Regions from separate parts of the Homo sapiens genome. Here region 2 is linked to region 1. Evidence: fine-mapped expression QTL. A gene starts in region 1. The other region holds a variant in brackets. All regions are shown on one strand. Distances are from middle to middle. Region 1 holds the start of TOR3A (torsin family 3 member A). Region 2 overlaps ABL2 (ABL proto-oncogene 2, non-receptor tyrosine kinase).

Region 1 (5,373 bases):
AGCGATTCTCCTGCCTCAGCCTCCCGAGTGGCTGGGATTACAGGTGCCCACCACCATACCCAGCTAATTTTTGTATTTTTAGTAGAGACGGGTTTCACCAGGTTGGCTAGGCTGGTCTTGAACTCCTGACCTCGAGATCCGCCCACCTCGGCCTCCCAAAGTGCTGGGATTACAGGCGTGAGCCATTGCGCCCAGCCTCAAGGACTACTTTTTGAAGAGTTTGGGAAATCAAGATGGGACTCAGGGAGAGTGGAATCACCCTTCCTAAAGATCCTGCAGATACCCAGAACAGTTGGCACAGACCTGTCTAGGGAGGAACCCTGTCCCCCATGTCCTGAGGCTGCTCCCATCCCTTGGTTTCAGGGCTCCCTGTTTTATGGAGAAGCCTGATTTTATTCATTCTCATTCAATTCAGCCAACACTTGGTGAGAGCAGCTCCAGTGTGCAAAGCCTTCTGCTAGGTCTAACTTCCTCCTGTCAGACGTGAGGTTGTAGGATTTGGAGATGGCGCTACCAGGAGCCACAGTGCAGACAGGCAGGGTGTGCGGCCAGCTGTGGGTGAGCATTCCAAATCCAGGATCAATTGGTTGAACACCTTAAGCCAGCCCAGAGCAGGTATTCTGGAGCCTTGGGAGGTCAAGGTCTATGATAAAACATTGAGGGCATCACACATTGCTCCAAAAGTAGTAGTGACATAGAAGAAAATTAACATTTGCTGCTTTTTTCTCTGTATTCAGAACTGGGCTAAGTGTTTTACATTTGGTCTTCACAATTCTGCAAGGCAGGCATTATTATTCCCATTTAAAGCTGAGGAAACTGGCTGGGCGAGGTGGTTCCCGCCTGTAATCCCAGCACTTGGGGAGGCTGAGGCGGGCGGATCACGAGGTCAGGAGTTCGAGACCAGCCTAGCCAACATGGTGAACCCCCTCTCTACTAAAAATACAAAAATTAGCTGGGCATGGTGGTGGGCACCTATAATCCCAGCCACTCGGGAGGCTGAGGGAAGAGAATCGCTTGAACCTGGGAGGCAGAGTTTGCAGTGAGACGAGATTGCTCCAGCCTAGGTGACAGAGACTGACTTGGTCTCAAAATAAATAAGTAAAAAAAATAAAATAAAATACAGCTGAGGAAACGGACACTTGGGAAGGACTCTTCAGTTTGCCAGCAAGGAAGAGGCACGACTAGGAGGGGTCTCCAATCCGCTGGCCAGAACAATTTGGATATCCAGGCCCTTGTCGAACAAAAGGCATGTTGAGGACAGAAAGTAACTTGCTAATTGCTACCTAGGGTCTTATCCAAGTCAGCAGTGATCCAAATTAAGACTTCCTGACCTGTATGTAGTCCTATCTTCTGTCCTGAGCCAGACTGTGTCCCTAAACACACTGTGTTATTGGCATTTTGGCCAATTAAGTGACCTAAATATCTGGGGTGGGCCTCATTTATGGAGATTGAAGGACCTGGGATCAGGAGAACTCTGGGCAAGAAATTGCTCCTGGGGAAAAGAGAGGAAGCTTTTGCAAATGTCTGAACAGGTTTCAGAACATGGGGCCAAAGATCACCTTGTGAGAGTGAAAATGCAAATCAACTGCGATATGCAAATCAAGCAACCCAAACTAATTAGAAAATACTGGTTGCCATGGCACAGTGGCTCACGCCTGTAATCACAGCACTCTTGGAGGCCAAGGCAGGCAAATCACAAGGTCAGGAGTTCGAGACCGGCCTGGCCAACATGGTGAAACCCGCCCCCCCCCCCCCCCCCCGCCTCTACTAAAAATACAGAAATTAGCCGGACGTGGTGGCAGGCACCTGTAATCCCAGCTACTCGGGAGGCTGAGGCAGGAAAATTGCTTGAACCCAGGAGGCGGAGGGTGCAGTGAGCTGAGATCGCACCACTGCACTCCAGTGTGGGTGACAGAGCAAGCCTCCGTCTCAAAAAAAAAAAAGAAAAGAAAGGGACACTTTTAATCACAACCCAGAATTTCTGATCAGTTCTCTCTGGATAGTTCCAGCCCCCTCTGAGAGGTAGCTGTTTCTGTTTAGAGTGAAACAAGGTGCTCTGGGCCTGACAAACAGCTCAGTTTGCCTGGGCTATTAAGCTAGAGGCTAAAAAGGGGCTTCCCTGACTCAAGCATTTGGTACTCCCTCAAAACTTCAGTCAGACTGTGGCAGTTCCTGCTTGTCGGGAGGCTGGGCAGGATGACGAAAGGTCCCTTGCATCTAACCATTTCCCCTGGACTGCCTCCCCTCCCCACAGATCCCTAGCCCCTTGAAGCCATGCGGGGTCCAACCTGTAAAGTTGTTGGAGATTCTGCAATCCCCTCTAGGGCAGCAGTCTTTGAAGCTGCAGTACCACGTGGTCAGGAGGTCCAGGTACCGCTGGCCCAACAGAGGAAGGCGCCAGCCTGGAAAAGGAGGAGCTGTGAGACCGAGAGGAGACCATCCGGTGCTCTACAGTGATGCGGCAACCTTGCCACACAACTTGTCAGGGACAGAGGGACACCCAGAACTCAGATTCTAACTCCCAGCCCCGACTCGGCCCACTGTCGGTCCTCAAGCCCTGCGTCCAAAAGCAGCAAGGGAGACGGCAGTCACCAGGCATGTCCACAGCGGACGTTCCCTAGAGCTGTCAAGAGCAACACCTTCGAATAACGCCAGGGTGGGCTGGGAGATGGCACAGGCGGTGCGAGAGAATCTGGAAAGCGCAGGGATCAGGGGAGGCGGGGGACGGGAAGCCGGGCGCCAGGGGGGTGCGCAGGGGACGCGGGTGGGGCAAGGGCGGTGATGGGGCTCCCTGCTCCGCGGAGGCTGCCCCCGCCCACAGCCGGTACCGGCGGCTGAGCAGAGCAGGACTGCGGGCCCAGATGTCGCCCCGGACAGGAGCGAGGCGACCACAGCCGCGCCCGGATCGCACTCTGCTCCGCAGCGAACGGCGGACCGTGGGGACGGGGTCTTACCCAGGGGCCCCGTGGCTGCCTCCTCGTCCTCGTCACAGTCGTCGGGCCACACCTGGCAGCTGAAGAGCGTCCAGTACCGCTTGGAGAGGGCACCCGCCGCCCTGAGCTGCTCCTGCAGGCGCTGGAAGCCCGGCCAGGCCCAGGCCGAGCCCGGCTCGTCGGTTCCCTCCCACGGCCTGGAGGCGCCGCGGGGCTCAGGCGCGCCCGGGAGCAGCAGCAGGAAAAAGAGCCAAAGCTGGCGCCACGGACCGCGAAGCATGGCCGGCCCCGAGCTGCGGGACCATCCGGCTGCCGGCCTAGCCAGGCTCCCTTAAGCCCGGGGCGGTCAGGCGGGGACCGCACTTCCTAGGCGGGCTTGAACCCGGGATTGGTGTTGCTGTGGCGACCGGCGGGCCGGGCTGAGTGCGCACTGGCAGCCTCCGTACACGTGACCCAGGCGGGAACCCGAAACCCTGTCTGGGGTCCTGAGAGGCAGTCCCGAGACTGACTTCAGGCCAGGTGCAACTAGCCGGCTTCCAGGAAGCAGTTTATTCTGGGTCGTGATTGTGGTTGCAAAGAAGGTGAACTCAGGCTTTGAAATGGCCACTGTCAATCACTCCGCTAGGACTTTCGGACGGCTCTGGTGGCCCATCAGAGGCCTACCGAATAAGGACACTCCTGCTTTGCCTCGCGTTTGCAGATCAACTTCCCGCCAACCTGTTAGAGGAAGCCGGAAAACCGTCTCAGTCAGGAGCGTTAGGCAGGCCAGGGGAGTCAGCTGAGTGGAGAAGAGGCCCTGGAAAGAAGGGCACAGCTAGGTGCCTGTCTGGCCAAGGTTGCCCTGGCTCCTCCGCAGAGGGAAATGAAACCGCAGCAAAACACCAGCAGGTTTCCACAGTGGGAGTCCACGAAAAGCAAGAGGAAGCTGATTGACGGGCTCCAGTCTGGAGGTGTTTGGAGTTTGGAAACCCCCCGAGTCATGGGTAAATCATGAGGCGTCATGTCAATGTAATTATATCTCATAAAAATCCGAAGTACTGTGTGCACTTTCTTGACTAGGTTTGCAACTTTCAAGTGCTGGGACTGAGCAGCCCATCCGACACCATTGGCAAAAGACTACAGGGCCTCTTTCCCTCAGCGCTCTCTTCTCCATAGCGAGGAGCATGGAACAAGGCTGTTAGATTTCAGAAGAGCTTAATGCATTGTTTAAAATCACCTGGCTTACTTCAGCCAAGCCAAAAAGCCGTCTTGTCTTAGGAGAAAACTGCTGTCTAGAGAGATCAGAGGACTTGGCTAATGTCATATGTTTAGTGGCTTTGAGGTTGGGCCCTCCAGACAGTAAGGTGAATACTAGCACCGTGTCTCACAAATGTCACAGGCAACTTGATTCATCTGTTCACCCCAGTCTCTTAGATCACACCGTGCCAGGTCTGCTCCATTCTCAGCAGCTCACCAAATTTGTGCCTTTCATTCGAACAGCTACAGAAACTAGATAAAGCACCTTTGCTAGGACACGAGGTTGAGTTGAAAAGTAAAATGTTTATAGTGTCTCAGCCATTCAGTGTGATGTCAAAAACTTTTCATAGAGTAGCAGCCATGGCACCAGCCCAGCACTGTGTACATCGAGCTTGCGGAGTCCACCGGAGACAGTTAACAGCACATACACCACAGTGCTTATTGGAAAACCAAAAAAAATTAGGCAGGGTGTGGTGGCTCACGCCTGTAATCCTAGCACTTTAGAAGGCCGAGGCGGGCGGATCACCTGAGATCAGGAGTTCGAGACCAGCCTGGCCAACATGGTGAAACCCAGTCTCTACTAAAAATCCAAAAATTAGCTGAGTGTGATGGTGCGCATCTGTAATCCCAGCTACTCAGGAGGCTGAGGCAGGAGAATGGCTTGAACCCAGGGGGCAGAGGTTGCAGTGAGCCAAGATGGTACCACTGCACTCCAGCCTGGGTGACAGAGCAGGGCTCCATCTCAAAAAAAAAAAAAAAAGAAAAAAGAGAAAAGAAAAAAAATTAACTCACTCAACAAATGTCGTTTGAGTCTGAATGGCAGTCTAATATAGTGATTACCATTTTCTATTTGTGCAACCATGGATGTTACTGAACCGTCCCATGCCTGTTTCCTCACCTATAAAAAGGGATAATAAAATAGTCCCCTCATAGGGCTGCTGTGAAGATTAAATGAGCTCATTCAATGAGCACATCATCAACACTCAATACGTGGCCAGTTTTATTTTTGTATCTACCCAGCCATGGAGGAGGCTCTGGGTGGTCTACACAGGAGGCAAGGATGGCTTTAGTTAATACTGGTGGTTTATAAGTGAATTTATGGTGAAAAAATTAATAGTAACAATAGTTTATTAAAACAATCCAAGTTTTAAGATGTTGTGGAAAGAATTATCTGTACTTGGAACTTTTATGTAGGGCTACCTGC
Region 2 (5,373 bases), 39 kb before region 1:
GCCCGACCAAAAGCGTCTTTAAAAAAAATAAATAACAGGCTAGGCATGGTGGCCTATGCCTGTAATCCCAACACTTGGGGAGGCCAAGGAGGGTAGATCACTTGAGCCCAGGAGTTCAAGACCAGCTTGAGGAATATAGTGAAACCTCATCTCTACAAAAAATTTTAAAAATTAGCTGGGCATGGTGGCATATGTCTGTGGTCCTAGCTACTCGGGAAGCTGAGGCAGGAGGATCACCTGAACCTGGGAGGTCAAGGCTGCAGTGAGTCATGATTGTGTCACTGCACTCCAGGCCGGGCAACCGAGTGAGACCCTTATTTCTCAAAAATACATAAAAATTAAGGCTCCCTTGGGAGAGAAGTCCAGAGAATTCCCTCTTACTTTACATTTCTTATTGCTTAGCAAATTAACAACTATTTTGTAAGCAATTCTGTGAAATCCAGTGTGGCTCTTTTCTTTTTTTTAGATGGAGTCTTGCTCTGTCACCCACTCTAGAATGCAGTGGCGTGATCTCAGCTCACTGCAACCTCCACCTCCCAGGTTCAAGCAATCCTCCCACCTCAGCCTCCCAAGTAGCTGGGACTGCAGGCACGCACCACCAAGCCTGGCTAATTTTTGTATTTTTAGTAGAGAGGAGGTTTCACCATGATGGCCAAGCTGGTCTCAACTCTTGACCTCAAGTGACCTGCCCACCTCAGCCTCCCAAAGTGCTGGGATTGCAGGTGTGAGCCACTGCTCCTGGCCACCGGTAAATTGTGGCTCTTTCTTTAATGGCCTAGACACTCAACTGCACGTCATAATTAAAATTATGAGATATTTGAATACTCTTACCAAAAAAATCTAAATCAGTGGTTTTCAAGTTATGTTTTTTACAAGATTAAGGTGATATTTTGTAAATTTCTACAAGAGGCCAAGTCCTTGCTTGCCTACTTTGATCAGGGTATCTCTTCTTTACGTATCTTCTGTAGTTGAGTCCATAGTCTTGTGGCTTAAAAATATTTGAAGACTGGCCGGGCGTGGTAGTTCACACCTGTAATCCCAGCAATTTGGGAGACTGAGGCAGGCAGATCACTTGAGGTTAGGAGTTCCTGACCAGCCTGGCTAACATGGTGAAACCCCATCTCTACTAAAAATACAAAGAAAAAAATTAGCCAGGCGTGATGGCGCATGCCTGTAATCCCAGGTACTTGGGAGGCTGAGGCAGGAGAATCACTTGAACCCAGGAGGCGGAGGTTGCAGTGAGCTGAGGTCATGACACTGCACTCCAGCCTGGGCAACAGAGTGAGACTCTGTCTCAAAAAAAAGAAAAAAAGAAAAAGAAATATATATTTGAAAAAATACATAATTTGAGTATATATATATTTGAAAATATATATATATTTGAAGACCAATGAGCTTGATTATCCAGAGAGAGATCTTGGAAGGTTTTTCCCAAGACTAATTTAGGAAGAATAGGAAAGGCAGATTAAATAAGATTAAACTGAAGTTCTGTGTTTACCCTTGCAATCATCATTTAACTTTTTTATTTACCTCAATTAAGATAAACTCTTGCTGGGTATACTGGCCCAGTCTGTAATCTCAGCACCTTGGGAGGCCCAGGCAGGAGGATTGCTTGAGGCTGGCGTTTGAGACCTGCCTGGGCAATAGTGAGACCCTGTCTGCAGAATATTTTTTTTTTTTTTTTTTTTTTTAAAGATAGCCTTCTATCTATATCTTCAGGCCAGTGAAATATGGGCTTTAAAAAAGAATTCCTAGGCCGGGAGCGGTGGCTCATGCTTGTAATCCCAGCACTTTGGGAGGCTGAGGCCGGCAGATCACGAGGTCAGGAGATCAAGAACACGGTGAAACCCCATCTCTACTAAAAATACAAAAAATTAGCCGGGCATGGTGGCGGGCGCCTATAGTCCCACCTACTCAGAGAGGCTGAGGCAGGAGAATGGCGTGAACCCGGGAGGCGGAGCTTGCAGTGAGCCGAGATCGCGCCAGTGCACTCCAGCCTGGGTGACAGAACAAGACTCCATCTCAAAAAAAAAAAAAAAAAAAAAAAAAAAATTCTTAATCTCTTTTCAAGTTGTTTAGCTTTTCTCCTTTTCTTACCAGGTGTATGTGACTGCTGAGAGCCGCTTCAGCACCTTGGCAGAGCTTGTACACCATCACTCCACAGTGGCTGATGGGCTGGTGACAACATTACACTACCCAGCACCCAAGTGTAATAAGCCTACAGTCTATGGTGTGTCCCCCATCCACGACAAATGGGAAATGGAGCGAACAGATATTACCATGAAGCACAAACTTGGGGGCGGTCAGTATGGAGAGGTTTACGTTGGCGTCTGGAAGAAATACAGCCTTACAGTTGCTGTGAAAACATTGAAGGTGGGTTGCTGAGAATTACAGTTTTCAGGCATCTTTTTCTTTTGTGCTCAATCACTTGGAAATATCAGCATGCCCTTCTTTAACTTTGGAACACTTTCCACCCACTAGTGCCAAGCACATCAGCAAATTGAGATGATTAACCCTAGTGCCATTGCTGACAATGCAGAGGTAGATTATTCACTGCAATGCAGTGAAACCCACATGTGGGAAAGGTCTGTCTCTGGAGGCTGTTGATGTAGATCTTAGTGGGAGGTTAGAAGCAAATTAAAAGTTATAAAAGCAAAATAAGCTCTTTTGCTTCCTGAGAACGACCCCTGCTGGACAGAATTCTTGTCTGAGAGTCATGGGCCTCTTTCTTGTTCTGTCCTTTCTCTCCCTTGTTCTTGTTCCTCCTGTCTCTTTGCAGTTAGATCACTTCTTAATATTAACAGAAATCTTTTTCGTAGTACTACTATATGTCTCCTTTAAACATCCCAGTATCAAATTATAAGGTTTTCACTCACTTGATTCTCCCAGAGCCTCAGTAACTGTCTCTGGTGTATCACTTATAAGGGCTATTCTTTAGCTATTAAGTAGTAGTCAGTTCTGTTTCTTAAGCATATTCTGAGTGTGAAGCAATATATAAGGCCTTGCTCTCTAAGAAGATTATGATCTAAGCAAGAAGATAAGTATGTAAGCAGCTAAGTGCTCTGTCTCGTCATTCAAAGCCTGAGATATCTGGAGAAGTAAACTATGAGAGAACTGAACTATCCAATACAGGGCT[C/T]CTGTGTTTCAGTTGATTATAGGACACGATTGCTGAATTTTGCTCCTCCTGCTAATTTTTACTCCAGGGCATTTTTCTTTCTAAGTTGGACTTCTTAAAATAATAATTATTTCAGCTGGGCGTGGTGGCTCACACCTGTAATCCCAGCAATTTGGGGAGCTCAGGTGGGCGAATCACCTGAGGTCAGGAGAGCATCCTGGCCAACATTGCAAAACCCCGTCTCTACTAAAAATACAAAAAGTAGCCAGGCATGGTCGTGCATGCCTGTAATCCCAGCTACTTGGGAGGCTGAGCCAGGAGAATCGCTTGAGCCCAGGAAGCGGAGGTTGCAGTGAGATCACACCACTTCACCCCAACCTGGGTAACAGAGCGAGACCGTGTCTCAAAAAAATAAATTAAATTAAAATAATAATTATATCTTGTAATATGCTAAAATATTCAAAAGATAGTTTTTACTTTTAAAGCTGAAGCTTTATGATTGTGAGATGAATGAAATGATTTTAAGTTGAGGGTTTGTCCCTCTCGTTTTCTTCTTTCTTACCTTTCCCTTTTTCTAGGAAGATACCATGGAGGTAGAAGAATTCCTGAAAGAAGCTGCAGTAATGAAGGAAATCAAGCATCCTAATCTGGTACAACTTTTAGGTGAGGAACCTTGCCTGAACCATAGATTTCCTCCAAAAATGCTTGCCCTTTAACCCCTTGTTATCTCCAAATGCTTTTTTTTTTTCTTTTTAAATATAGAGACAGGGTCTCGCTCTGTTGTCCAGGCTGCTGTTGACGTGATACTTCCGCCTGGGCCTTTCAATATGTTGGGATTACAGGCATGAGCCACCATGCCCCGCCTTTTTTCCTCCCCCAAACCTTTCTTTTTAGTCACCATGGTGGAAGCTGCAGGTTTGAATCCACTTCAATAAATAGTTATTTTAATCAGTAGGTTCTGTGTTTAAAAATAGCCCAAGAAACAGTGGCCTGGATTGATTTTGGTGTATAAAACTGCTCAGTTTGTACTAATTGCCCCAGATTCAAAGTTCAGAAGTGTTCAAAATGGTACTGAACCAAAAACTCATGAAATGTTTTTGCAAAATAAAGAGACATTAAACAAAGGACTGTTGAAAAGAAGCAAATTAAAAACTGTGACCACACCCCTCAGTTTACCTTTACAAGCAGGAAATGCTTTATTATGTTAGATTGGCTTTTCACTGTTCAGGTCACAAAGAACTCTCTTACTAAGCCTTTTTCCTTTTTTAAAATAGGGCCAGGTTTTTTTTTTTTTCTTTTTTTTGGGGGGGTGTGGGGGGTGTTTTTTTTTGTTTGTTTTTTAAATACAGAGTCTTGCTCTGTCACCCTGGCTGGAGTGCAGTGGCATGATCCTGGCTCACTGCAACCTCCACCTCCCAGGTTCAAGCTATTCTCGTGCCTCAACGTGCATCACCACGCCCAGCTAATTTTTGTAGTAGAGACAGGGTTTTGCTATGTTGGACAGTCAAGTCTTGAACTGCTGGGCTCAGGCGATCTGCCTGCCTCAGCCTCCCAAAGTGCTAGGATTACAGGCATGAGCCACTGCACCCGGCCTCTTGTTGGTTTTTTATAAGGAATCTGCCATATATCAGTGAAATCCTTGACTATGGAAATGATGAAAATCATTTTGCAAAGCAGTATTGCAGGTGGGGCTCACATAGTCTTCAGCTTGTGCACAATTGCTATTACTTTTGAATAAGTATTGTTAGCCTGCAGTTGAGGAGGAGAATCATGGGCCATGTGCAAAACTCTAGACATGTTGGTTTTCTTGGCCCCTTATAGAATTAATACAGGTAACTCTGCTTTTGCTCAAATAGACAAATACTCAGAGGCATATGAATTCCCAGAGAACAATACAGTGAAAGCAAGGACTCCCTTATAAACCAGCTTCTTAGTTTTTGCTTATTAATTTCAGAGAACGTGGTGGTAAGAAGGGAAAAGATTATTGCCGAACTAGACCTGAAAAATTGTCAAATTATTCTTGGCCAAAGTGGTTTGGAGTGTTTGAATGTACACTAATAAAAACAAGCACTATTGTTCAACTTTTAGGTGTGTGTACTTTGGAGCCACCATTTTACATTGTGACTGAATACATGCCATACGGGAATTTGCTGGATTACCTCCGAGAATGCAACCGAGAAGAGGTGACTGCAGTTGTGCTGCTCTACATGGCCACTCAGATTTCTTCTGCAATGGAGTACTTAGAGAAGAAGAATTTC

The links. PIP is the estimated chance that this variant, and not a neighbour inherited with it, causes the effect.
Region 2: its variant is the best candidate, but not a certain one, in a credible set for the expression of TOR3A in skeletal muscle (GTEx, PIP 0.59).

What each region holds. Positions count from the first base shown.
Region 1 is chr1:179,079,969-179,085,341 of GRCh38, reverse strand. It overlaps TOR3A (torsin family 3 member A), which reads right to left and starts at 3,272. Exons shown (of 6, transcript NM_022371.4): 1 at 2,955-3,272; 2 at 2,289-2,402. The coding sequence starts at 3,213. RefSeq lists silencers at 1,648-1,707, 2,698-2,867, 3,008-3,297.
Region 2 is chr1:179,118,595-179,123,967 of GRCh38, reverse strand. ABL2 (ABL proto-oncogene 2, non-receptor tyrosine kinase) reads left to right here. Exons shown (of 12, transcript NM_007314.4): 5 at 2,101-2,373; 6 at 3,694-3,778; 7 at 5,204-5,373. Among named protein-coding and RNA genes, the nearest start is that of TOR3A, 39 kb to the right of the region's middle. The variant C/T (reference allele first, on the strand shown) is at 3,137.